2 linked regions of the Homo sapiens genome follow. The protein of the gene in region 2 purifies or fractionates together with the protein of the main gene of each other region. This does not show direct contact. Each region holds a gene or a part of one and is shown on either strand. Other genes may lie near its edges. The genes, in order: SPTLC1 and ABCA1.

What was found.
Region 1: the proteins of ABCA1 (region 2) and SPTLC1 purify together in Homo sapiens (affinity purification with western blotting; 2 studies listed by BioGRID and IntAct, with this or other methods). This does not show direct contact.

Annotation. Positions count from the first base shown.
Region 1 is NC_000009.12:92,037,466-92,049,679, reverse strand, and holds part of SPTLC1 (serine palmitoyltransferase 1), read left to right. Parts: intron 1-1,971; coding exon 1,972-2,067; intron 2,068-2,411; coding exon 2,412-2,508; intron 2,509-3,626; coding exon 3,627-3,681; intron 3,682-11,314; coding exon 11,315-11,432; intron 11,433-12,214. UniProt on the Homo sapiens protein: Component of the serine palmitoyltransferase multisubunit enzyme (SPT) that catalyzes the initial and rate-limiting step in sphingolipid biosynthesis by condensing L-serine and activated acyl-CoA (most commonly palmitoyl-CoA) to form long-chain bases.
Region 2 is NC_000009.12:104,915,115-104,927,328, forward strand, and holds part of ABCA1 (phospholipid-transporting ATPase ABCA1), read right to left. Parts: exon of another isoform or gene 11,675-12,214; intron 7,429-11,674; exon of another isoform or gene 6,998-7,428; intron 4,723-6,997; exon of another isoform or gene 4,672-4,722; intron 3,624-4,671; exon of another isoform or gene 2,587-3,623; intron 1-2,586. UniProt on the Homo sapiens protein: Catalyzes the translocation of specific phospholipids from the cytoplasmic to the extracellular/lumenal leaflet of membrane coupled to the hydrolysis of ATP.

The sequences.
Region 1 (12,214 bases), about 13 Mb from region 2:
GAAATGGTTAAATTTTGCCTTCCAATTATTTCTTAAAATCATTAGGAATTTCCTGAGTGGTCTTTTCAGAAGTATTCATGACGGCAGAGAAAGGATACTGTTTCTGGTGTTTAAAAATCTGTATTCTATATAATGTGTTTGTGGGAGGTAGATACAGTTACGCGTGCGTGCGTGTGTGTGTGCATGTGTGTGTGTGTCAGAAACACCACTGGCATGCATTCAGCAAAACCTCTTAAAGTCCCAAACAGAATGAGGTGTCATGTTTCCTTTTCTGAGGGAAATGGACCCAGACTGCCCGCAGTGCCTAGTGGGTTTTGCTCCTGGAGCCTCAGGGCAGAGGAAGTCAGCCAGTCTTGAACAGCTGTCTTACCAACCACCATGGGAAGAGTTACAGAAAGCTTTTTCTCCAAAACATGCGCATAAGAGCTGTGCAACCTGTGTTACAGAGTTGAACTATAAAACGTAAAATTGCCTTACATTATCGACATCCCGCTAACCATATAGTCCCAGAGAAAAATGTAAAGCAGAGTGAATATCCCGGGAGGTTGGATGGAAGCACCTCCTCCAAGGCAGACTGACATTCAGCAGTTACATGCACCGAGGAGGTAAATGGAATAAATGGAAAGATAAATGGAAGTGTAATTCAAGCAGATTTAGCAGTACACTACAGCCTTTTTTAAGGCATGAAAATTTTTATGGAGGAAAAAACTTGAACTTCACTGTTGTAGTTTTGTGAATGCTTCCAGCAGTTGTCACTTTGGGAAATACTGTGAGGAAATACTCACAAGCGCCTGAGAGTAGAGAGCAGAATGTACGGGCTTTATTTGGATCCTGATTCAAACAAATGCTGTTAAAAGAAAATTTGGTGAGACAATCAGAGATATCTGAACACTGAATATTTGAATATATTTAACATCAAATTTAAACTTAACATTTAAAAATTGTTAATGTCTTAAGTATGATACTAGTTTTGTGATTATGTTTTGAGAGAGTTTTTATCTTTTAGAAATACACAGTGCAATGTTTATAGATGAAACCCCATGAAGTCTGGGACTCACTACAAAGAAATGATGAGGGTGGTAGGGGATATAGGTGAAGCAAGGTTGTCCTTGAGTTGATAATGTTTGAATCTGGGTGATGGGGATTCTTTGTTCTGTTCTACTTTGTTCAGGCTTGAAATTTTTCATAATGAAAGGTTTAAACATGCTTTTTAAAAAGGGCAGGAGTGCAGAGTTTCTCAAAACTCTGCTGGATCTATGAAACACTAAGGAAAACACTAGCTGTGTTCTGACAATCCATTAACATGGCCATCAGTAAGTAATGATTGAATGCCTACTGTGTGCCCAGAATGGAACTTGGTGCTGAGGGCTGGACCCAAAGATGAGGACCGAAGGAGTTCTGAGTGGTCAGAAAGATGTAGGACTCAAAGCCCATTAGGTCATTTTAGAGCACATTAGGTTCTTCTGCTGTCCAGTTGGTCAAAGATTCCATCGCCATGACGTTTGGATAAATTGACTTATGAAATGCTGAGAGGCAAACTGAATACAAGAATAAAGTGCTCAAAACTTCGATAGACTTTTTATTTATCTCAGTGCATCCCATGAGGAAGGCCAGCTAGACCACTGTTTTAGCGAGGAAATAGTCTTATTTTGTACCTGTGACTACTTTTAATATCGAACAGCTTTGGGTTTTATTTTCTTATAATTTATTTGTCTTTGCTGTGAGTTAATTTGTCATGTATAATGAAATGGTAAAAATGTATAAAATGAGACAGTTTCAGATGGGCCATGAGACTACAGTTCATTCAGCGATAGATGTTATATGGTTTATTTTTTATTTTCATGTAGATAGGTAGTTTGAATCCAGATATTAACAGACAGTTTAATGCTGTTAAATTTTGTCTCTAGGCTTGAAGTTGGCCTTTTTTTTCTTTAAACTGTGGAATAACTGTCACTCCTCCTTTTCCGGCAGATTGATGATATTGATCTTATCAGTGCCAACATGGAGAATGCACTTGCTTCTATTGGAGGTTTCTGCTGTGGCAGGTCTTTTGTAATTGACCATCAGGTGGGTTCTTTTTAAAAACAGGAGCTAAAACTGAAACTAATTTCTCCATTGGTCACCTCAAAATATAATTTTGAAATACGAAATTTTACTTAGTTTATCACACAATTTTTATTTAAATGTCAATTTTTAAAGAATCACTCAAAATATTTCTATTTAGAAATGATCTCACATTTAACAAAAAGTCTTGTTGCTGTTACACGTATAATGTTTATTTATGGCTGGATCTTACCCCCCTCACCACATGTACACACTGTTCAGTAGTTGTTCTAGAGAACTGGTGCCTTTCAAATGTTTACCTAGAAAGGACAGAGAATGTGTATATGTCTTCATTTGTTTCTTCTCAGCGACTTTCCGGCCAGGGATACTGCTTTTCAGCTTCGTTACCTCCCCTGTTAGCTGCTGCAGCAATTGAGGCCCTCAACATCATGGAAGAGAATCCAGGTATAACCCTTTAAAAACCCAAGGAATCAAAGAGATTTCAGGTTACGTTAGTTGTGTTACTGATTTACTTACTGGAGAAATTATTTGCCAGACAAAACTGGTTTGCAGTTACATTATATGGCATTCATAGGAAGAATGGCAGTGAAGAAGCTATTCCTGCCCCAAGGACTTGGGGTCAGAGCTTTTCTCCTGTGCTTGGGGCCAGAGCCAGAGCCAAAGCAAGGCTAGCTCAGATAGTGGGTGGAGATGCTGGGAGGACGAGGGGCTCTCAGCCAGTTCTGGGCCTAAACGTTCCATTGGTGTAAATAAGCCAGTCTTTATTTGGTTAATAGTTTTTTGAGAAATCAGCTGAAGCATGCTGCTTTTTTATCTGTGCAATTTTATAAATATTGTGAGTTTTCACCTTTAGCCTTTGAATCATCAGTTGGTACTGAGGCCAAGCCGGGTTTACCAGCAAAGAACTTACTCAGTGGGAAAAATAAAAAGTCTACTAAGAATTTAAAATGTGGCCTTTGGCTATGACAGTGCCACCTTTGCAAAGCTTAAAACGGAAAGGGAGCAGCAGGCCCTACCCGGTACAGTATTTCTGAATCTTCATCACTGATACTAATTCAGAGAACCAGAAAATGTGTGTCTCTGTGCTCATTCATATGCTTGCTTCTCAGATGGCCTGGCACGCCTACCTTCTGATCAGATACTTTAGTTTTGGGATTTTCCTTGAATAAAAAAGGAAAATATCAAGAAAAGATTGTAAAAATTACTTTACTATAGTTGATTTTTTACCAAATTGTTTAGGATAAAGAAATAAGCAATAAATTTGTACCCTTTGATTCTTAGCCAGATTAGGATCTTGATGAGAACAAGAGGCATTGATTGTTCTTGAAAGCATCATTCCAGGTTTGTTGAAAGTGGGATACTGAGGTGAGAAGGGGCCAGTTAGCACGCACCAGAGACAAAGCTTGGGCCTTCAGGGGAGTATGGGTTCTTGGCTCTGTTAGTATGTAGAAGGATTTGTAGCATTTTAAATTGATGAACTTGATCTGGGTCTTCAAAAATATTTTTAGGTTAGTACTATCATAAGTTTCAAATAGACTCTCAAACGTATTTTTTTCATCTAGGTATTTTTGCAGTGTTGAAGGAAAAGTGCGGACAAATTCATAAAGCTTTACAAGGGTGAGTTTTATATATTTTCAACCAACATAAAGTTTATCTGCACCACACTTAACAACTAATGGAAAGTTTTAAATTTCTAGGCTTGGGTCAGTTTGACCAGATTGCAGCTAAGAAACCAAAAACTTAGTTCACTCACATTGGTTTATTTGTGTAAAACCAGATCATCTGTTTTAAAGAATCGTGACTTTGTTTTTCTGAAAATGAAACAAACTCATTAATAAAATATTACAGCAGTACAGAAGATAGAAAGATGAAAATAACAACCCAACATCTTACCACCAGAAATAACCAGGGTAAACACTGAAGCATCTCTCCATGTCTGCACACACAGGGATGCCATTATATATTATGTAATTAGATGACTGGGTTCATACCATCTGTGTTACTTTTTAATAAATTACTAAGTTTTAACACAAGAAAAAGAAACAAGTGAAATTTTATCAGTGTTTTTTTTTTTTTTTTTTTTTTTTTTTTACTACACAAGAGTCACTTTTTTTTTTTTTATTATACTTTAAGTTTTAGGGTACATATGCACATTGTGAGGTTAGTTACATATGTATACATGTGCCATGCTGGTGTGCTGCACCCACTAACTTGTCATCTAGAAGAGTCACTCTTTAAGATTCCTCTGTAGTTAAAAAAAAAAAAAAATGGAGGTTGGTGATATCTCCAGGCACATTTCTGGTCTTATATAAAGTGATTTCACATTGCCCGAGGTCTTTCTTTTTGCCTTTCCTAAGGTTAAACATGCTTTCTTGGTCATGAAAGTCCTATCTGTGTTCCGGATATGGAAACTGGAGACTTAACTGAAAGAAAAGGACAATTGATAAATGAGTACATCACAGCTGTTCCAGATAAAGAAGGGGCAGAGACATTAAAGTTCTGGGTGTGTCTGTGTGATAGTAACAGCAGTTCTTGCATGATTTATGGTAGAGAGATATATTTGTATTGGTTCCAGTTCCATTGGTTTGTGAAATATTAATATGCCAACACAGCCTAGCATATTGGAGTCACTGGAAATGCATCAGTGCTAGCCTTACATGCCTTTCACTCTATGGTGTTAACCTGCCTTTTTCTAAGTCTAATCTCCACTTACCCCAGCTGTATCACACTTTTTCTTTCCAAAATTCCTAATCCTCTGTCTTCACTCCCCTCACTTTTAGCTAACAGCCTGGCCTTATGCTGTCACTTGGGACTCTGTCATATTTCCTGACAAATCTACACACCTGTGGGTATCTGAACCAGTCTTCCCTCCTGTAGACCAGTAAATGTTGCTCCAACTACCACAGGCCCTTTTTTTAAGGACTGAGTGCCTTTGCTTGTCCCTGCTACTTTGTCATCAGCCTGTCCCCTTTCTTGTGTTATTTGATTAGCAGTCATGTCCACTTTAAATTCCTCTTGCCTGTCACCTGACGTTTCCCTCTGCAACTCCCCATGTCTTTGCTCCTCTCAGTAGCTATCATCTCCACGTCTTCACTTACACTGGCAGCTCTGAGACCTGGCTTCTGCTACTGCCCTTCGCCTGGACTGTTTTTGTGGAGGTCTCCACTGACTGCTGAATCCAGTGGACCATCTTCAGAGCTCATCTTCTTGATGTCCCCATAGTTTTCAGCACAGGTGACCACTCTTTCCTTCTTTGGACTCTGCTACACTGCACGCCTGGATTTCCTTTTACATCTTTGAATGGCTCCATCTCGGTCTCCTCTGAAGGCTTTCTTTCAACACCTTGCTCTTCAAGGCTTTGTCTGTGCTTCTCTTTTCTTCTCATTACCTTCTTGAAGAATTGCCTTCTCCCACACCTGGAGCTCCACATCGTTTCATGACACCTGTATAGAGACAGCTCCCAGCTTCGTATCACCACCCTGGACCACTGCAGCTGCAGGTCTCACACCCAGTTGCCTACTCAGTATCCACAGTTGGAAGACTCCATGGCACCTCACAGTAAACACACATTCATAAGGGTCGCAGGGGCAAACCGTGCTGGTATCTAGATGGTTACAGAGAACAGTAAACAAAATAGCAAAGAGGCCAATGTGACAGGAGGAAAGGAGTGGGAAATCTGGTGGAAGATGAGGGCTGGGTCATGGGCCATCCGCACACAGGGACTTGTGAGCCGTGATGAGGACATTGGCACACAGAGGAAGCCCTGGCATGGTTTTGAGCAAAAAAGTGAAACAGCCTATCTGATACCCTAGCAAAATTACTTTTGCATGGTGTGAAAAAATACATTGAACAGCAGTAAGAACAGAAGCAGGGAGACCAGTTAGGAGATTGACGCAGGTGAAAGGTGATAGTGACTCTGACCATGTTGGGAGCCATGACCTGCGAAGTGTCTGGATTCTGGGTATCTTCTGAAGGGAGAGCACACTGGATCTAGCAGAAGTTCATATGCAGGGTGAGTGAGAAAGAGAAGACTCCAGGTAGAGCTCAGGGGGTTTGGTCAGAGTAAATAGGTAGAGTTGCTAATGAGTGAGAGGGACAGAACTGTGGAGAAATACCTTCTGGGGAAGGTCAGCAGTGGTTATGTTAAGCCCAAAGTGCCCATCAGACATGGAGTGCAGAGCAGCAGCTGGATATACAAGTCTGAAGTGTGAGGGAGAGTACTGAGCTAGAGATAAATGTTTGAGTCTTGGGGTATGGATATTATATGAAGCATTTCAGTGTGAAGAGGTCAGAAACTAGCAAAGACTAGTCTGAGAAAGAGTGGCCAGTGAGGAAGAGGCAGGCTGGAAGAGCCTAGAGTCCTGGAAACCAGGGAAGAAATTGCTTATGTAGGAGGTCAGCCTGTGACATGCCGCTGCTGACAGGCCAGACCAGATAACAGAACACTGATCCTTTGACTTCGTTATGTAGAGGTATTATGACTTGGTGAGTAGTTTCAGGGGAGTGTGGGGTAAAATGCCTGCTTGAAGGAGGTTCCAGACAGGTGGACACGGCCTAGATGACTGTTTTGAGGAGTTTTTCTCTGAAGAGGGACTAAGAAACAAGATGGTGGCTGGAGAAAGAAATTGGTCAAGAGAAGAATATTTCAGTTTAAGATTACTGAGATCAATTTCTGAATAACATCTGGCTAAGTATAAAACATCCTTTCTCCTACTGGTTGACAGTACTGTATCATATACCAGGTTCCCATTTGTACCTAGATCTGTTTTTAAACTGTCTCTTCCATTCCATTGGTATATTTGCTCATTCCTCAGACTCTTTTGATTTTGTCTGTTTTTATCACTGTTTTGGAATACAGGTTTATCACTAGTGTCTGTTTTTATCACTGTTTTGGAATATGGGTTTCTCCAAAATTATTGCTAGAATCTTAATTGGAACTGCATTAAATTTTCTGATGAATGTGGAGGGAAATGTCATCCATGAACATGAGCTCTCTATTTAAATCTCCCTTTGTGTCCTTTAATGGAATTCCTATAAAGCCCTTGTACCTTTATGGAACCTTTAAAGGGAATTTTCAGACATCCTATAGATTTTGTTGCTGTTATGAATGGGGTTGTCTTTTCTGTTATATTTTCTACTTGATTATTGCTGATTCATAAGAATATTATTATTTTCTCTAAACTGACCTTATATCCAGGAGTCTTTCTAAACTCTTAGTATTTCCAGTAATTGTTTCATTGTGTTATGATGATGTGCATGGAAGTCCTGTTATCTGCAATAATGGTGTTCTCTCTTTCCTTCCTAATGCTTTTGCGTCTTAGTTCATTTTCTTATTTTATTGCTTTGGTCTGAGTCCCTAATTTGTATTGAACAGTGGCAATAATAGCAAACATTCCTTCCTTATTCCCAGTATAGAAGCACTTCTTCATTAAGTATAAAACATCATGCTATGGGTTTTTGGTGAGTAGCTTTTATTGAATTATTCCTAGTTTTGTTTTGTTTTGTGGTTTTTTTAAGAGACAGGATTGTGCTATGTTGCCCAGGCTGGAGTGCAGTGGCTATTCACAGATATAGTCAACACACTATAGCCTCAAACTCCTGGACTCAACCAATCCTCCTGCCTTCACCTTCCAACTAGTTGGGACTACAGGCATGTACCTCTGCACCTGGCTAAATGATTCCTAAATTTGAAGGCCTTTTTTTAAAATCATAAATAGACGTTGAACTTTATCCATTTTTTTTACATCTATTAAGGTAAATCATAAATTTGTCTTATGGCTGAATTACATTGAAATATTTTCTGATGTTAAACCATCCTTGCATTCTTGAGAAAACCGTTACTTCATTATAATATCTTTTTCTACACTGTTAGATTTATTTAGCTAATATTTTAATTTGACTTTTTATATCTGTTTATAATTTAAATGGATCTATAACCTTGTACCAACTTTACGTAACATAGGAGTCAGTGTTAGGGTAGCTTCGGTAGATGATTTGGCTATTTTCCACTCTTTCTGCTTCATGGAAGCACTGAGTAAAACAAGGCTTGATCGTTTCTTCAGAAGTTGAGAGTAGGTCTCCCACTTTACAGCCATCTAGGCTTGGGGCCTTTGGTTTGGGAATAGTTGTTGATTATCTCTCATATATCTATATTATTTTAACTTTTTATTTATGTAAATTTGGTTTTGTGTGTTTTCATCATAGTGTGTTTTCTTATTTTTATGCACTGTCTCATTGCACTGTGTTCTTACTCTTCTTCAGCTTCTTACATTTAGCTTTTGGTTTTATTTCGTATTTTCCAATAAATATATTAAAGATAAATATTTTCAAAGGCAGTATCTTCAATGTTTAGTTCTGAGTAATTTTTTTGTTCAATTTTTCTCTAATTTCTCACTTCTCTCATCTCTGAGATTGAGTTTGGGAAAGGAAGTCAACATCCTATGCTGGTTTGCCTCTGTTTTCATTGTAATAGAGATAGTTATTGGTGTCAGGTTCTCCCTATAGACTGTAAGCACACAGTGGAGACCGTGGCTACCTTGGTGATTGCTCTGTCCCTGGGAGCTAGCCCAGTGCTCGTTTATCCACTGGGATAAGATGATATGTTTGGCAAAGTCTTTTGTTAAGGAATAGTATAATAGACTCTGAAACACGGCTTCGCTGAACTCAAGCTATAACTGTGTCCGTTTGGTTTTAATTAAACTCATCTGACATTCAGCATCTAGGCAACCAGAGACAGGGCATTTTGTTTAATTCCTTCTCTCACTAGCATGTGAAATGAGACCATTTGATCAAAAAGCACAAGTTAGATCTGGACCTCAGGTGCCTTGTATTTCTTTTCTTTTTTTTTTTTTTTCTTTTGAGACAGAGTCTTGCTCTGTCACTCAGGCTGGAGCACAGTGGCGCGATCTCAGCTCACTGCAACCTCCACTTCCCAGATTCAAGCGATTTTCCTGTCTCAGCCTCCTGAGTAGCTGGGATTACAGGCACGTGCCACCACACCTGGCTAATTTTTGTATTTTTAGTAGAGACGGGGTTTCACCACATTGGTCAGGCTGGTCTTGAACTCCTGACCTCGTGATCCCCCCAACCTTGGCATCCCAAAGTGCTGGGATTATAGGTGTGAGCCATCGCGCCTTGTATTTCTTGAGGAAAATTGAGGCCATTTGATTCATATGAAATGCTATTTGGAAAGCAGTTTTTTTTGTTGTTTTTTTTGTTTTTTGCTTTTGTTTTTGTTTTTGTTTTGAGACAGAGTCTTGCTTTTGTTGCCCAGGCTGGAGTGCAGTGGCACGATCTCAGCTCATTGCAACCTCTGCCTCCCAGGTTCAAGCGATTGTACTACCTCAGCCTCCCGAGTAGCTGGGATTATAGGTGTCCACCACCACACCTGGCTAATTTTTATATTTTTAGTAGAGACAGGGTTTCACCATGTTGGCCAGGCTGGTCTCAAACTCCTGACCTCAGGTGATCTACCTGCCTTGGCCTCCCAAAGTGCTGGGATTACAGGCGTGAGGCACCACACCTGACTGAAAGCAATTTTTTAATACTGTGAGAATACATGACCTTTAAAAAAAAAAAGATACTTGATATATGCGTTTAACATGGTCAGAATTTACACAGGAAATGGGTTTTCAAAGTGTATTGCTTAGTTTCTACATTAGTAAAGAACTAATCTAGAAGGTTCCCCCACATTCCACATGCTCAAGATTCCATGATTCAGACCTGTAGCCTGCTTTATTGAGAGATCTAGCATGATATATTTATATTTAAAGAAAGGAGACGCTAATTAATAATGTTCCAAGGGTGATTGGAAGGCCAGGTCAGATGAGTTTCCAGAATTCACATTATTGTAACACACAGTAGTCATTCTGTAAAGGCTTGTTGAGTCCTAAACTGGGAAGATGCCATTGTGCTACCTAGTACTTTTTATTGTCATTTCATTCTGAGGGAAAAACAAATCGTTTTAGGTGAAACAAACTAAATGAAAGGAATCTAAAATGTTTAGCTCAGTTTCAAATAGACATATATCACATTTGTGTCCTAGGAGGTAGGTCAAAAGTCAAATAATATTTGTTGTTATAGGATAAAATAGACTTTAAATGAACCTGACTAGATAGTAGCCGAGATCGTGCCACTGCACTGCAGCCAGCCTGAGTGACAGAGCGAGATGCCATCTCAAAAATAATAATAATAATAATAGTAGTATGACATAGCATCTCATGGCAGCTGTAGTAAAAATACAGGATTAAATTTAATTTAATTTAAAAATACAGGATTTGGCCCCTAAAGATCTATCTTTCTCCTTGAGAAGCTACAGATTTTTGTGCTATTAATCCTAAGTAAAAAGAAAATAATTTTAATCCAAGTAAAATCTAAAACTTAACATGCAAATAAGGACGTTTTTCTATCTAAACATATTGCTGTTAGTCAAAATATAAGGTATGTTTGGTATTTGTTGAGTTTTTCTTTGAGACAGAGTTTTGCTCTGTCACCCAAGCTGGAGTGTAGTGGCACAATCTCAGCTCACTGCAACCTTGACCTCCTGAGTTCAAGCGATCCTCCCACCTGAGCTTCCCAACTAGCTGGGACTACAGGCGCAAGCCACCACACTCGGCCAATTTTTTGTTTTTTGTTTTTGTTTTTGTTTTATTTGTAGAGATGGGGTATAATGTTGTTAATGTTAGAAATCATCCCTGTAATTTATGAGAGACAAAAACTGAAGACATAGATAATAAGCAAGGAAGCATAACATAAACTGTAGTGAGTAGCTTGTGAAGGATCCAGACAGGATGAAAAATAGCAAATGATGGAGCAGAGCCTTCCCTAAAGTGGGTGATGAAGAAGGCCCCAGCAGCAGGCAGTGCTGGAGCTGGGCCCTGGCACATGCAGCCAACACAGGGAAGAACAAACATTGGGGGCGAGGGAGCACATGGCAAGGGAATGACAGGCCAAGGTGGGGCCCAGAGGGCCTGTAAGGAGGCACAGACTCCCTGGTGGGAGGCTGGGGCCATGAGACCCGGTCCTGCACTCAGGAAGCCACATTGCAGGCAGACTTTTTTAGATGAGGAAGCACTGCCCAGAGTGCCTCGTTTCCCTTTCTTTGTTGGAATTGGAATGATGCTTCCCATCAGTCGCAAGCTTCTGTACGTTCACTGTGCCTTGACATTGTGGACTTCTAACATTATTTCTCCGTGAGCGATCTTCAAGCCTGGAAGGGACTTACAGCTGTGTGTGTGTTTCCCTTCTTCAGCATTTCTGGATTAAAAGTGGTGGGGGAGTCCCTTTCTCCAGCCTTTCACCTACAACTGGAAGAGAGCACTGGGTCTCGCGAGCAAGATGTCAGACTGCTTCAGGAAATTGTAGATCAAGTAAGTATCCGTTGACTTGAGGCATCCCCCCACACCACTTCTGCCCTTGCCCCAAGCAATTTTTTAATGTTAAATTTTTAAGAAAAGTCTCTTTGCCCTGAGAGAGAAGAGGGTAGAAAGGAAGATGCTGGTGACCCGCTCTTGACATGGAATCCTAATCCTCCAGGTCCTTCCTAGCTTCTGGCCATGGTAACAGGCAGCAGGCCCTCCCATTGGGTCAATGTGTGGCTCCCTCCAAAGATATTGTGTTTTGTACCACTTTGCATTTAAATATACTTGGCCTCTCCTCTGAAAAATTAGCCTTGCAGAAAACTCACTTGCTCACCATTTTACAAAGCCAGGCTTTCCTATGTGTAGTTGGGGGAGGCATTGTGTGTGGGCATAGCACACATTCCTGGACGGCTGGCTGTCCCCGCAGCACAGCTCAGGGACAGTCCACTCACAGTCACCCTGAAGTCAGGATGCTCTTGTAAACGGAAAGGAAGACCGCTTTTTATAACATACCTAATTTGGGGAGATTTATTTAAATTTCTTTATCTTCCAAAAGTTATTTTACTACTAATTGTCTAAGAAACACATCACCAGGGAAAACTGCTTGCCCCTTTTCATCCAGTAGCACTACCCCTCCAGAGTGCTTCCTGCCCTGGGCACGCGGGTTTACAGTGGTTCAGAGCCAACAGAAGTTTCTTTAAAAGGGGGAGGAAGAGCAGCGGAATAACCTGGGCAGGAAGGACTCAGGACGGGCAGTGGGATGCCACCCACCTTGCACCCCTCTTCCAAGT
Region 2 (12,214 bases):
ACCTTAACACTTTTATTCCCTTTACTTGCGCCAAACTGAGTTATCCAATCTCCAGGCTCTTGTCCAGTTCTAGTTCATACAGTATCGGCAGCCTTCTCCAGAACGTCCTTTCACCAGCCAGCTCTTGAGACAGTCATATGTCATGTGTGCAAGACACTTCTATTTCTGCAGCCCGGCGAGGGCCAGCTAACTCGGTTAGTGACAATTTAATCAAAGTTCCAGGGCAAGCACAGAGACACAGAGTCTAAGTCTTGCCCTCCAAAACTTACAAGCAAACTCCTTCTTTAGAATAACCAAAACAAACCCTCTCGCTGGCTGCCTCACTAAATTAAGAGAAGAAAGGGGAATAAGATCACAAGTTTAAATCCACTTACTTGTGATTCTGAAAAACAAAAACTTAAGGGTGTTTTTCTTTAAATATTGACTACATGAACTCTATTATATGAGGTCTGAGAGGATCCTACAAAAGGATCTGTATTATTCCAATATTATCAAGATTCTGAGTGTTCCTTATAGAAAAAACTACTGTTATTAAGATTTTCACAAATCAAACATTCTGTGTGCCAAAGAACAAAGTGGGAAAAATGGAACAAAAGTGGGAATAATTCCCAAAAATGGAATTATTGGGTTTCATTTTTGGTAGCCTCCTTCTGTCAACTGTAGTTTTGAAAAATTCACACAATCCAATCCCCCAAGCAACAACGCGCTAAGTGTTTACATCAGGTGAGAGCTGGTGTTGGTCACATATGCTATGAACTAGAATTGGACAATGTCCCAAAACGGAGTGCCATCTGGGGTCAGAGTGCCATGCCCTTCTCTGCAGACTCCAGGGACATATCCACTCTGCTTAATGGAAGCCACTGGAACCAAGTGTCAGACAGCCCTCTATTTGCTCCACAGAGAAGAAAGCCATGCTCTGATCATGTGAAATGTGACTGGAATTGTAAACTGAAAAATGGCACTAATTCCACTAAATTTGCAAATCCTGCAACAAGACTGACAACTTAATAAACAATACTTGACCAAAGGCTTTCTTTCTCGTGAACTCAAGGTTTTCACTATAATTAACACAATCATTAAAGTAAAAAAAAAATAAAAATAAAAACCCTGCCTTGATTCACAGTTAATTTTAAGCAGCCAACATCAACATCGGGTTTCAGGCTTTTGCATAAAGAAACAGCCTTTAGGAAACCCTCAACATTCAGGATTTTGTTCTGATTCAAACTTACAAAGAACAATTTTTAGTTGAGAGAAACAAAAAATTCCAGTTGAAAGACGCCTTAAGATTCAAATTGGACCAACAGACAGGAGAAATAAATGAGGCCAGTCCAATATTTAACATTTCAGTGTCCATTTTAAGCTGAAAGGAACAGACATCTACAGACACAATTTCTTCTTTCTCTCCTATAAAGGGCACTGTAATAGTTATCCTAAATTCTGGTATAGTATGAAGAAGCCTGGATTAAAGAGGCAAGAGACTAAGATTTTAATTTGCAGTTAATGGCAGCTGGAGAATAAATTTAGCACGCCATTCTACCACTGTGGGTAATGGAACAGAAAACAAGTCCTTTTTTTTGTTTCTTGACACAGAGTTTCGCTCTGTCACCCAGGCTGGAGGGCAGTGGCACGATCTGGGCTCACTGCAACTTCAGCCTCCTGGGTTCAAGCAATTCTCCTGCCTCCACCTCCCAAAGTGCTGTGATTACAGGTGTGAGCCACCGTGCCCAGCCAGAAAATATGTCTTTTTGATGAAGAAGCTGAAGTGGATGACCTTCTGAGTCTAAGAAAACTGTTTGGGACTTGGGTATTCAGTAGCCATGGAATATACATCCCAAAGAGCAGAAGAAACCGTAACACTAGACCCCAACATCAAAAATATGTTGCTATTTTCTCCCACATTGCTGGTAGGGGTGCAAACTGGGACACTTTGGCAACTTACATTAAAATGCTATGAGAGAACAGGGGAAGCATTCCTTAAAAGTTCTAGGAAAGGTGTTATGGAGGAGGTAGCATGAGAAATTCAGCCAAGTGGGAAAAGCACAAACCTGGGAGTCAGAGAGACAAGAGTTTGAATCCCTGGCTCTGCCATTAGCCAAATATGGAACCATGAACAAGTTATTTAACTTCTCCTCGGCTCAGGTGCATCATCTGAAATATGGGGCTAATATAATAATAGGCAAGCTCAGTATTTCCCCAAATGTGGGAGAGTTACACAGGATGAATTTAAGTGATATTCAGAGGATTTTAGGAGATGAACAAGCACAGTATTAAACATTGAACCACATCATGAGAAAATATGGTTCTTTTCAGCACTTCTTCAGCCTATATATAACATTCTTAGTACATTAAGGAGTAAGCGGCCGGGTGCGGCGGCTCACACCTGTGATTCTAGCACTTTGGGAGGCCGAGGTGGGTGGATCACCTGAGGTCAGGAGTTGGAGACCAGCCTGGCCAACATGACGAACCCCATCTCTGCTAAAAATACAAAAATTAGCCGGGTGTGGTGGCATGCACCTGTAATCCCAGCTACTAGGGAGGCTGAGGCAGGAGAATCGCTTGAACCCAGGAGGAAGAGGTTGCAGTGAGCCGAGGTGGTGCCACTGCACTCCAGCCTGGGCAACAGAGCAAGACTCGTCTCAAAAAAAAAAAGGAGTAAGCTTTTGTTTAGTCTTCTTTTTGACACCTCTTTAATGCTTGCTAATTCCCTTTTCAACAAAGTAAGAGAAGTCTCATTGTCAGCTGGGGCCTTTGGGAACCAATAGTTTATCTTATACATAGACTGTGAGAAAAATAATTTGTCTTCATCCTAATTATTTTTAAAATTACCTTTCATTTATGATAACTCATATTGGTTTTCCAATTACAGGTCAAATATAAAGTTATTTTAAAATATATTGATGATTACAAAAATTTGAGTCAACTTGAGTGGGCTGAAATGCTACCTATCTCAGAGTTCCAGTGAAAATTAAATGAGATCATATATAAGAAGAACTAGCCCATGCTGTGTTCCATCACCCACGGTCTGGTTGATGGGTAAAATTTCAGTAGGTGAGGAATATGAGCAGAAGATCAAGTGTGAACCAAGGCAAATACATGAGATGGACATGAGATTCCAGAACAATGAGGAGCCAAACAATGCCAGGAAGGGGTTCTTAAAGTAGAAGATGAAAACCTGTAGAGAGAGACTCATTTAACAGGTACCAAACCATACTATATGTTAATCAGTCTGGTGAGAAAACCAGCTATAGTTCCTTCGAGCATGTGTCTTATAATCCAGGACAAAACTATCAAAGTGGGTCACAGTCTTATTTCAAAGAGCCTTGAATGCCAAGCAGAAAGAGATCATTAATGGTGGCAGATTCTTAAAAGTCTTTTGACCTCTGTCCAGCACCTAGTACTTTCCACAGTACATGGTGTTTAACAAACATTTGCTGAACAAATAAATTTGTTTAATAGCACTATAGGTGTATTAGTGCATTTAATTTTCAAATATAAATATGTATTGTTGTTGTTAATATCATATCTTCTTCTTCCTTCTCTCTCACAGTACCAGACAACAGCCTAACCCCAACTAAGGTAAACTCTGCCACCAAACATGCCTGGGAATGGAGAAGGGTCTGCAGGTCAGTGTAAGCTCATCAGTCTGGGCCTTCACTTTCTCCCTGCCTTTCCAAGGAAAGCTGCTGCTTGCATCAGTGTTGCCTTTATGTCAAAGTGTATCACCTAAATACCAGATCCAACAGATTTCAAGCCACCACCCTCCAAAGACTTGCTTCTTCAAGAAAACAAGCGTGGTTTGACTCTTGTGAAAAACAATTACTCCCAACCTGGCATCCTACAAGAATTTTGCAAAGCAAGGGTGAACAGGGATATGACAACCAAACATCTTCCTAGCAGCTCCTTCCCCCTCCCTGCTCCTGGCCAGAAACCTCTTCTTCCTTTTACTCCTTCTTCTTTCCACTTCTAATTTGTTATGATCTCTCAAACAACAAATTTGGTACAGTGCTTTAGAAAGCTTTGTGTCTTACCGACCTACCCCCAGTGAGGGTCTTCTGAGATACTTCAAACTATCCTCATGAGGTATAGTCCAATTCTCCTCCTAGGATGGGTACTAGCATGCTATTCTTGAAGGATGAATGAGCCTGAAGAGTTGGTTATGGTTTCCTTTCATCACCTATTGGCTTAACAGGAGTCCATTATAAGAAGTAAAACTTAGGCCGGGCACTGTGGCTCACATCTGTAATCCCAGCACTCTGGGAAGCCAAGGTGGGCAGATCACAAGGTCAGGAGTTAAAGACCAGCCTAGCCACCATAGTAAAACCCCGTCTCTATTAAAAAAATACAAAAATTAGCCGGACATGGTGGCATACGCCTGTAGTCCCAGCTACTCAGGAGGTTGAGGCAGGAGAACTGCTTGAATCTGGGAGGCGGAAGTTGCAGTGAGCCGAGATTGCGCCACTGCACTCCAGCCTGGGCAACATAACGAGACTCCATCTCAAAAAAAAAAGCAAAACCTACACCCAAAATGATGTCCGAGATGGAGAGTCCAATTTTATTTTAGAGAGATTTTCCAAATGGTGAGTCAGAAGCAAGAACAGTATCTCACTAAATCATGTTTACTCAACTGAAACTTATTGAATTAAACCAACTCCTCCTTCCTTTGCATTTCAGATGAGAACCCCTTCTGGTTCTATGATTCAAATCTTCATTCACTCAAAGCAGGTAAATAGGAAATTTCAACAGCTTCCTCTCCTCCCTCTCATTCCTTTCTTCTGTCATCGATCTGATCAGGAATGCTCTGAGGCATTCCCTGGTTATTTTTTCTTTACCTCTCAAAATCCACATGGTATGTTACACTAATGCCCAGCATGTTCCTCAGATCTCTAGATGGCTCTAATTAAAGGACCACCCCTTCTTCTGAATACAGACCTGGGGTTAGAGGACATAAGAGCTTGAAGGGCTCTTTAAAAGTCAAGTAGTATCATTTTACAGACCAACAACCTAAAAAACAGAAAAGTAAAATGACTTGTCCAAGGTCACATGGCTTAATGGATTTGTGGGCATTCATGAACACCCTGTAATTACACATAAAATTTGGATTATATGAGCCCATGTGTATTTTTTCTGAAGAGAAAATCCGTATCTTTCTTCAAAGAAGTCAACAATCTCTTCCCCAAAATATAGTAACCACTGACAATTATATGCATATTTGAAAAAAAGTTTAACTAAAATTTAATGTTCCAAGTCTGAATAGTAATATGAATTGGTGATCTAGAATAAGAGTGGAACCTAATTTAATAACTGTCATTGTTATCATCTTTTTTTCTTTTCATGTCTGGGATATCAATGCAAGTAACATGGGATAAAGACAATTTGATGTGGAAGTAAACTATAAAGCAAGATTTTTGTTTTGTTTTGTTTTGTTTTTTTGAGATGGAGTCTCGCTCTGTGCAGTGGCACCATCTCGGCTCACTGCAATCTCTGCCTCCTGGGTTCAAGCGATTCTTCTGCCTAAGCCTCCTGAGTAGCTGGGATTACAGGCTTGCACCACCACGCCCAGCTAATTTTTGTATTTTTAGTAGAGACGGGGTTTCACCATGCTGGTCAGGCTGGTCTCGAACTCCTGACCTCATGATCCGCCCACCTTGGCCTCCCAAAGTGCTGGAATTATAGGCAGAAGCCATCGCGCCCGGCCTAAAGCAAGCTTTTAAAATCACTGAAAACACTCGTATGAATAAATTTCACTATAGGCCAAGCATTATATTATACGGTTCACATTATACACAAACACAAATACCTATTTTACAGATGATGAAACTGAGGCAAAGAGTGATCAGCAACTTGCCTAATGTCAGATATCCATTAGTAATAACCAGAATTCCAATCTACATTAATTTGACTCTGATATCCATGTTCTTTTTCACCAATATTTGCATCTATACTCCAAGATGTCCTAATACTAATATTCTATTTACTTATTTAGAAGAACTAAATCAACTCTCTAAGGTAGCTTCAAGGAAGTCTTTCATAAATGGTTCAACTACTAAAAAGTTCTTCCTGGGAAATATCATAAACTAAATACCAGCTATCACAAAATATCTGGACTTTAAGACTAACCAGATAAAATGTTTTGACTTCCAAATGCTTCTTGGAAGTTGGATTTGGCAGAGAAAACACCGGGGAATTTTAAACAAACACCCCCCAAGAAAAGACTTTATAGAAGAATAGATCCAATGCATATGAAGTTACTGTTTTTTAAAAAAGTGTTTAAATCTCTAAATTACTTAGTGAGTCATGTCACTCTTATTAACAAAAATAAATTAATATACAACTCAAAGTACTTGAATATGGAATGCCACAGACTAGAGCATTTTCTTAAATCACAGCTGCCTCAGAAACGGAAATGAAACTGAGCGAAACTGAAATGTTTGTTCTACAAAAAGTAACCTGGCCTAAATAACTTAAGTATGCACTAAAATTTCTCAGTCTAACATAAACCTAGCCTTAACTACAGTTGTTTCTCATATAACTCTATTTCTAATGCTTTTCTGTGATTACCCTGTTATCTTAAGTAGTCTTTTAGAAGACAGGAAGCAAACATGAGCTTCCCATTCTCCTTGTTGGACTTATTCAAGTCAGCATTTATTAAATTTTTTCCATATTAAGTGGGATGAATTAAGGCCAGGGGAGAATGAATCAAAGACCTTCCTCTAGAGAAGCATACACTCAAGAGGAAGACAAATAAATGTTAACTGTAATTAAAAAACAGAATTAAATACATGATACAAAGAGTGCTGTAATCCAAGTCTAATGGAAGTAAAGAGAAGGGGATCTTACTTTCAACTTAGTGATGGGAAGGAGTGGATCCAGAAGAGCTTCATGAGGAGGGAAGCATTTAAATCGGGTCTTAAAGGAGGTTTGCAAAAGCTAAAGGGTTTTGTACCAACTTTGTTTTCAACATGGGAAAGACAGGATTTCAAACTTTATTTTGTTTTAGGAACCAAATCCAGTGCTCCTCCATTGTTGGAATAAATGCTCTTTGCCTGAATGCTATTTGTGGTCTTCGTAGAATGGAGAGTAACTGAAGGCCCCACCGGAAATCAATTTTATGTAAGCTTTTCATTCTCTGGCCTCAAGTATTTCTAAAATGTACCTTTCTATGCAGGCTACTTATTCAGGCAACTATTTTCAGGTGAAGATACTCAAATGAAAATAGAGAATCCCTTTTGGCCTTTTGCTAATATTTCATTTGTCAAAACTTTGATAGTCTGACAAAGTCTTTACCATGAGATTGGTAAACTCACGGAAGCCAAACTGTCTGGGATGCGACTTCAGCTCCACTACTTACGAACTCCATAATAATGTACCTAGCCTGCCTATACCTCAGTTTCCCATCTATAAAGACAATAAAAGCACCTATTTCACTCATGAGAATGAACTGAGTTATTACACGGAAAACTTAAAAACATATCCAACATACCATAAATCAACAGTAAATGTAACTATTTTTACCAAGAGGTGTCTTCAAAGAGTTTATTTCTAATTCATTACACCAATTAATAAGAAAGGCACTTTCTCATCCTATTTCACTTTTACAAGGCAGACATTTTTTTTCAAGACGGAGTCTCACTCTGTCGCCCAGGTTGGAGTAAAGTGGCACGATCTCGACTCAGTGCAACCTCCGCCTCCCAGGTTCAAGCAATTCTTCTACTTCAGCCTCCCAATCCCAGTAGCTGGGATTACAAGCACCCACCACCACGCCCAGCTAATTTTTGTATTGTTAGTAGAGACGGGGTTTCACCATATTTGCCAGGCTGGTCTTGAACTCCTGACCTCAAGTGATCCTCCTGCTTTGGCCTCCCAAAGTGCTGGGAATACAACAATGAGCCAGTGCACCCAGCCAACAAGGCAGACTTTGAAACTGTGTTTATCTTCCAAAAATACGTATATCTTAAGAAAAAACTAAATTTGATTTCTAAACAGTAACAGCAGTAACAGAGAAATAGCTTATTTCAAAAGGTCCACAACTTCATCAAGGACAGGACAAGCAAGAATCATATTGTATTATAACAAATTTTTACAATTCACCAAAGTTAGGTTTTACAACTAAACTAACAGTTCACTTCTCTTTTTCCTTTGTTTCTTAGGCCCTTACAGCCTAATACTCTATCATTCCATTTTCTATAGATCACATAGGAAAACATTTTGAGATCACACAGCTATTCGCAAACATCTGACTGAAGCAATAGTATAGTTTTCATTATGAACCAAGTAAAAAATTGAGTTGAGTAAATTTTATTCTATTCTTTCCAGGATGTTGCAATCCCTACGCAACCAAGGTTTCAAGTTAAAGAGAATTTGGCTGACCCACTCACAGCAACAAGGAAAATATGATACAGGCTGTAGATTCTGATAAGGATTATAGCAGATGAATGTAGAGAATGTGGTGATCATCCTTGAAAAGCTCCCTGGTTGCAGCAGCTGAAATGTTAGTGCTGGAGTTAAAGAACTCTGGCTGGGTTCAAGTCTTAGCTCTGCCTCTTGCAAGGTATATAGCCAGAGAAAAATTAGCTTCTCATTTACTTAATCTTGTAAACTAGGGACAATAAATGGTTTTGTTGTGAAAATTCAATTAGCATTTGATGACCTGCACAGTGGCTTATGCCTGTAATCCCAGCACTTTGGGAGGCTGATGTGGGAGGATCACTTGAGCCCAGGAGTTCAAGACCAGTCTGAGCAAGATAGTGAGACCTTGTCTTTACAAAAAATTGTAAAAATTTAGCCAGGAGCAGTGGTGCGTGCCTGTGGCCCCAGCTCCTTAAGAGGCTGATGTATGAGGATCACGTGAGCGCAGGAGGCTGAGGTTGCAGTGAGCCTTGTCTGTGCAGCTGCACTCCACCCTGTGCAACAGAGCAAGACCCTATCTCAAAATAAATACAATGAATAAACACGTGAAAAACATTTCAAACAGTACTTGCCACACAGTGCTATATAAGTGTCTATTCAACACTGCAATAACTTTGGCCATTCATGGTTGTATCCACATGCAGATACGAAGATGGTTGCATTTTTTGGAGTAGGCCTTCTCTCAGCATAAACAAAACAAGTGTTCAGAATGATCTTTTAACATTTGATGCTAGAGTAAATGACCATAACAACTACTATAATGGTATTATTTATTTAATATCTGGATACTTAAAAAAATGTATTTGAGGCCAGGTGTGGTGGCTCATGCCTGTAATCCCAGCACTTTGGGAGGCTGAGGCTGGCAGATCACTTGAGGTCAGGAGCTTGAGACCAGCCTGGCCAACATGGTGAAACCCTGTCCCTACTAAAAACACAAAAACTAGCCGGGTGTGGTGGCACGCACCTGTAATCCCAGCTACTCAGGAGGTTGAGGCAGGAGAATCACCTGAACCTGAGAGGCGGAAGTTGCAGTGAGCCAAGATCATTCTACTGCGCTCCAGCCTAGGCAAAAGAGCAAGACTCCATCTCAGAAAAAAAAAAAAAAGAAAAAGTATTTGGTTTTAAAAGTATTTTAGAAATGCAAAAACCACATGCATTTTGATATTTTCTAGACATCTAGATATCTTCATAATTAGAAGAGTCTATCTAAGGTAATGTTCACTTATTCTAGCAGCTAAAAATGAAAACAGTGAAGACCTTAATTTGTAGCCACTACATATATAGCTTAAGTATCCCGGCTTACGGGAGAGAAGATCCCTTTAAAAAAAAAATTTAAATGGAAAAATATCCCAACCAACTCCTCTCCAAAAAGGTAAGTACTACAGAAGATAATAAAAAGCTAAGTCACTGAACTTCTTCAGTTTCATTCATTTTTTTATGTTTACAATGGGACTTCCTTGAGCAGAAGGAACCAATCCTTGAAAACAATCAATTCCTGATCACTCTTTTCCAATCCTGCACTAATGCACTGTCTCACACAAACCGAAAATATGTTCTAAGTCAAAATGTGTCCAGGGGTCGGGCGCGGTGCCTCACGCCTGTAATCCCAGCACTTTGGGAGGCCGAGGCGGGTGGATCAAGAGGTCAGGAAATCGAGACCATCCTGGCCAACATGGTGAAACTCTGTCTCTACTGAAAATGCAAAAACTAGCCAGGCATGGTGGCGTGCGCCTATAGTCCCAGCTACTCAGGAGGCTGAGGCAGGAGAATCTCTTGAACCCAGGAGGTGGAGGTTGCAGTGAGCCATATCGTGCCACTGCACTCCAGCCTGGGAAACAGAGCGAGACTGCATCTCAAAAAAAAAAAAAATGTGCCCAGGGTCCATTATAGGCCTGCACTCGTAGAAATACGAGGGTTGAGATTTCAAATGCTCATCTGCAGGGGAGACAACATATCACACGTGTCCAGGTTACAGTCAGATATGTCATTCTGGAACACTATGCGGGTGCTCAAATACAGACTCCTAAATTGCTCTGACAACAGTAGCAATTCTAGTCCCTTAAATGGCTTGTAGTCATCGTGAAGGCTGAAGACCCACTTCCCCGGTCCTTCTGATTGTAAACCAATGTTTTCCTAAAATTCCCTAGCATTAATTATTTTAATGGTTTGTGGAATTATTTAATGGTTTGTGGAAGCACTTGGGAAACAGGCTGACAATGGAAACTTTGTATTTGAAAAATATTGTAATATCTGTAGAGGTTCTACTCAGGAATACTTTCCATGCTTCCATACTTTCTCTGATTTAGGAGAAAGTTTCTCAAGAGAATGATACTCTCAACAGAAACGGAAAGTTTCTCAACAGAAAGCCTCCATTATTTTTGTGGTAGGTATGAGAAGAATAGGTTGAAATAAAAGGGGAGATGAAAACTTAAGGACTTTAAGTTTTGTTTGAAAAGAAGATCATAATTTAAGTCTGGGTTCTAAACTACGGCCGTTAAAAAAAAAAGAAAAAAAAATCAAGAAAATTCCACTCTTTAACTTGGGGGAAATTTTTGTGAGGTTCTCTTCGTGGGAAGCAGGGATTCGGCCATGGAGGGCAAGTGACTTGCTGATTTCAGTACCCAGAAGGTTTTTTTAAATATGAAATTTGTCCACTATGAGATGAATGTGTATATACTACCCATTCTCTTCTTGAAGTGTCAATGAAAAGTCGGATTTTAAAAGCTAATGGTATCAGTGCTGCAAAGGCAGGCCAATTACTGCCAGTGCCAGACAACTTTTTTCTTTGTTTATTTTTAATCTTATTTCTTTGCTTCTTTTTGATAAAAGATATACCTAAAGAGGCACCTACACATAACCCTGGCACCGTCCGCCGCCCCAAGAACCTTCCTGCTTTACCAATGGCCTGGGAGTTGGCAAACACGCTAACAAAAAAAAAAACCAAAAAAACAAAAAAAAAAAAACAAAACGGGCTTTCGCCTCAACCTCATAGTTCCTCCCCGTCTGCAACCACCGGTCTTCACCGGATTCACAGTCGGAACCGCGAGCAAAGACACCTAGTAGAGCCGGCCGATTCCTAGGTCCTCCGGCCAGGAGGCGCTGCGGGCCAGTCTCCGGGGGCCACCGCAGCCCGCGCGCCCAGCACCCCCACCCTCACGGCAGAGCCCAGCCCAGCCCCGCGGCGGAGCTCCGAGTTCTGCGCCGCCCGCCGGGGTTACTCCCGGTCATTCCACGGCACCACCTCGGCCCAGCTTCCCCATCTGCGCCCAGGCAGAAGCTGCCCCGAGAGACCAGCAGCAACGGTCTGGAAGATGGGGCTGCAGGGAACGTGGGAGAGGGAGGATTGGGCACCCCACCTCCGGGTCTCCGCAGGCTCTCCTAAGTCTTGTTTTTAAAAGAAACAAAACTCGGCCGCGCGCGGTGGCTCACGCCTATAATCCCAGCACTTGGGGAGGCCGAGGCCGGTGGATCACCTGAGGTCGAGGGTTCGAGACCAGCCTGGCCAACAAGTTGAAACCCCGTCTCTACTAAAAATACAAAAATTAGCTGGATGTGGTGACGCGCCTGTAATCCCAGCTACTCAGGAGGCTGAGGCAGGAGAATCGCTTGAACCCGGGAGGCGGAGGTTGCAGTGAGCGGAGATCGTTCCATTGCACTCCAGCCTGGGCGACAGACCGAGACTTAAAGGAAAGAAAAAAAAGAAAAAGAAAAGGAAACAAAACTCGTCCGCGCTCTGCGCCAGGGACACCAGCTCAGCTGAGCGCACGGAGACTGTAGGCAGGACCTCCCTACCCCTCAGGTCAAACAA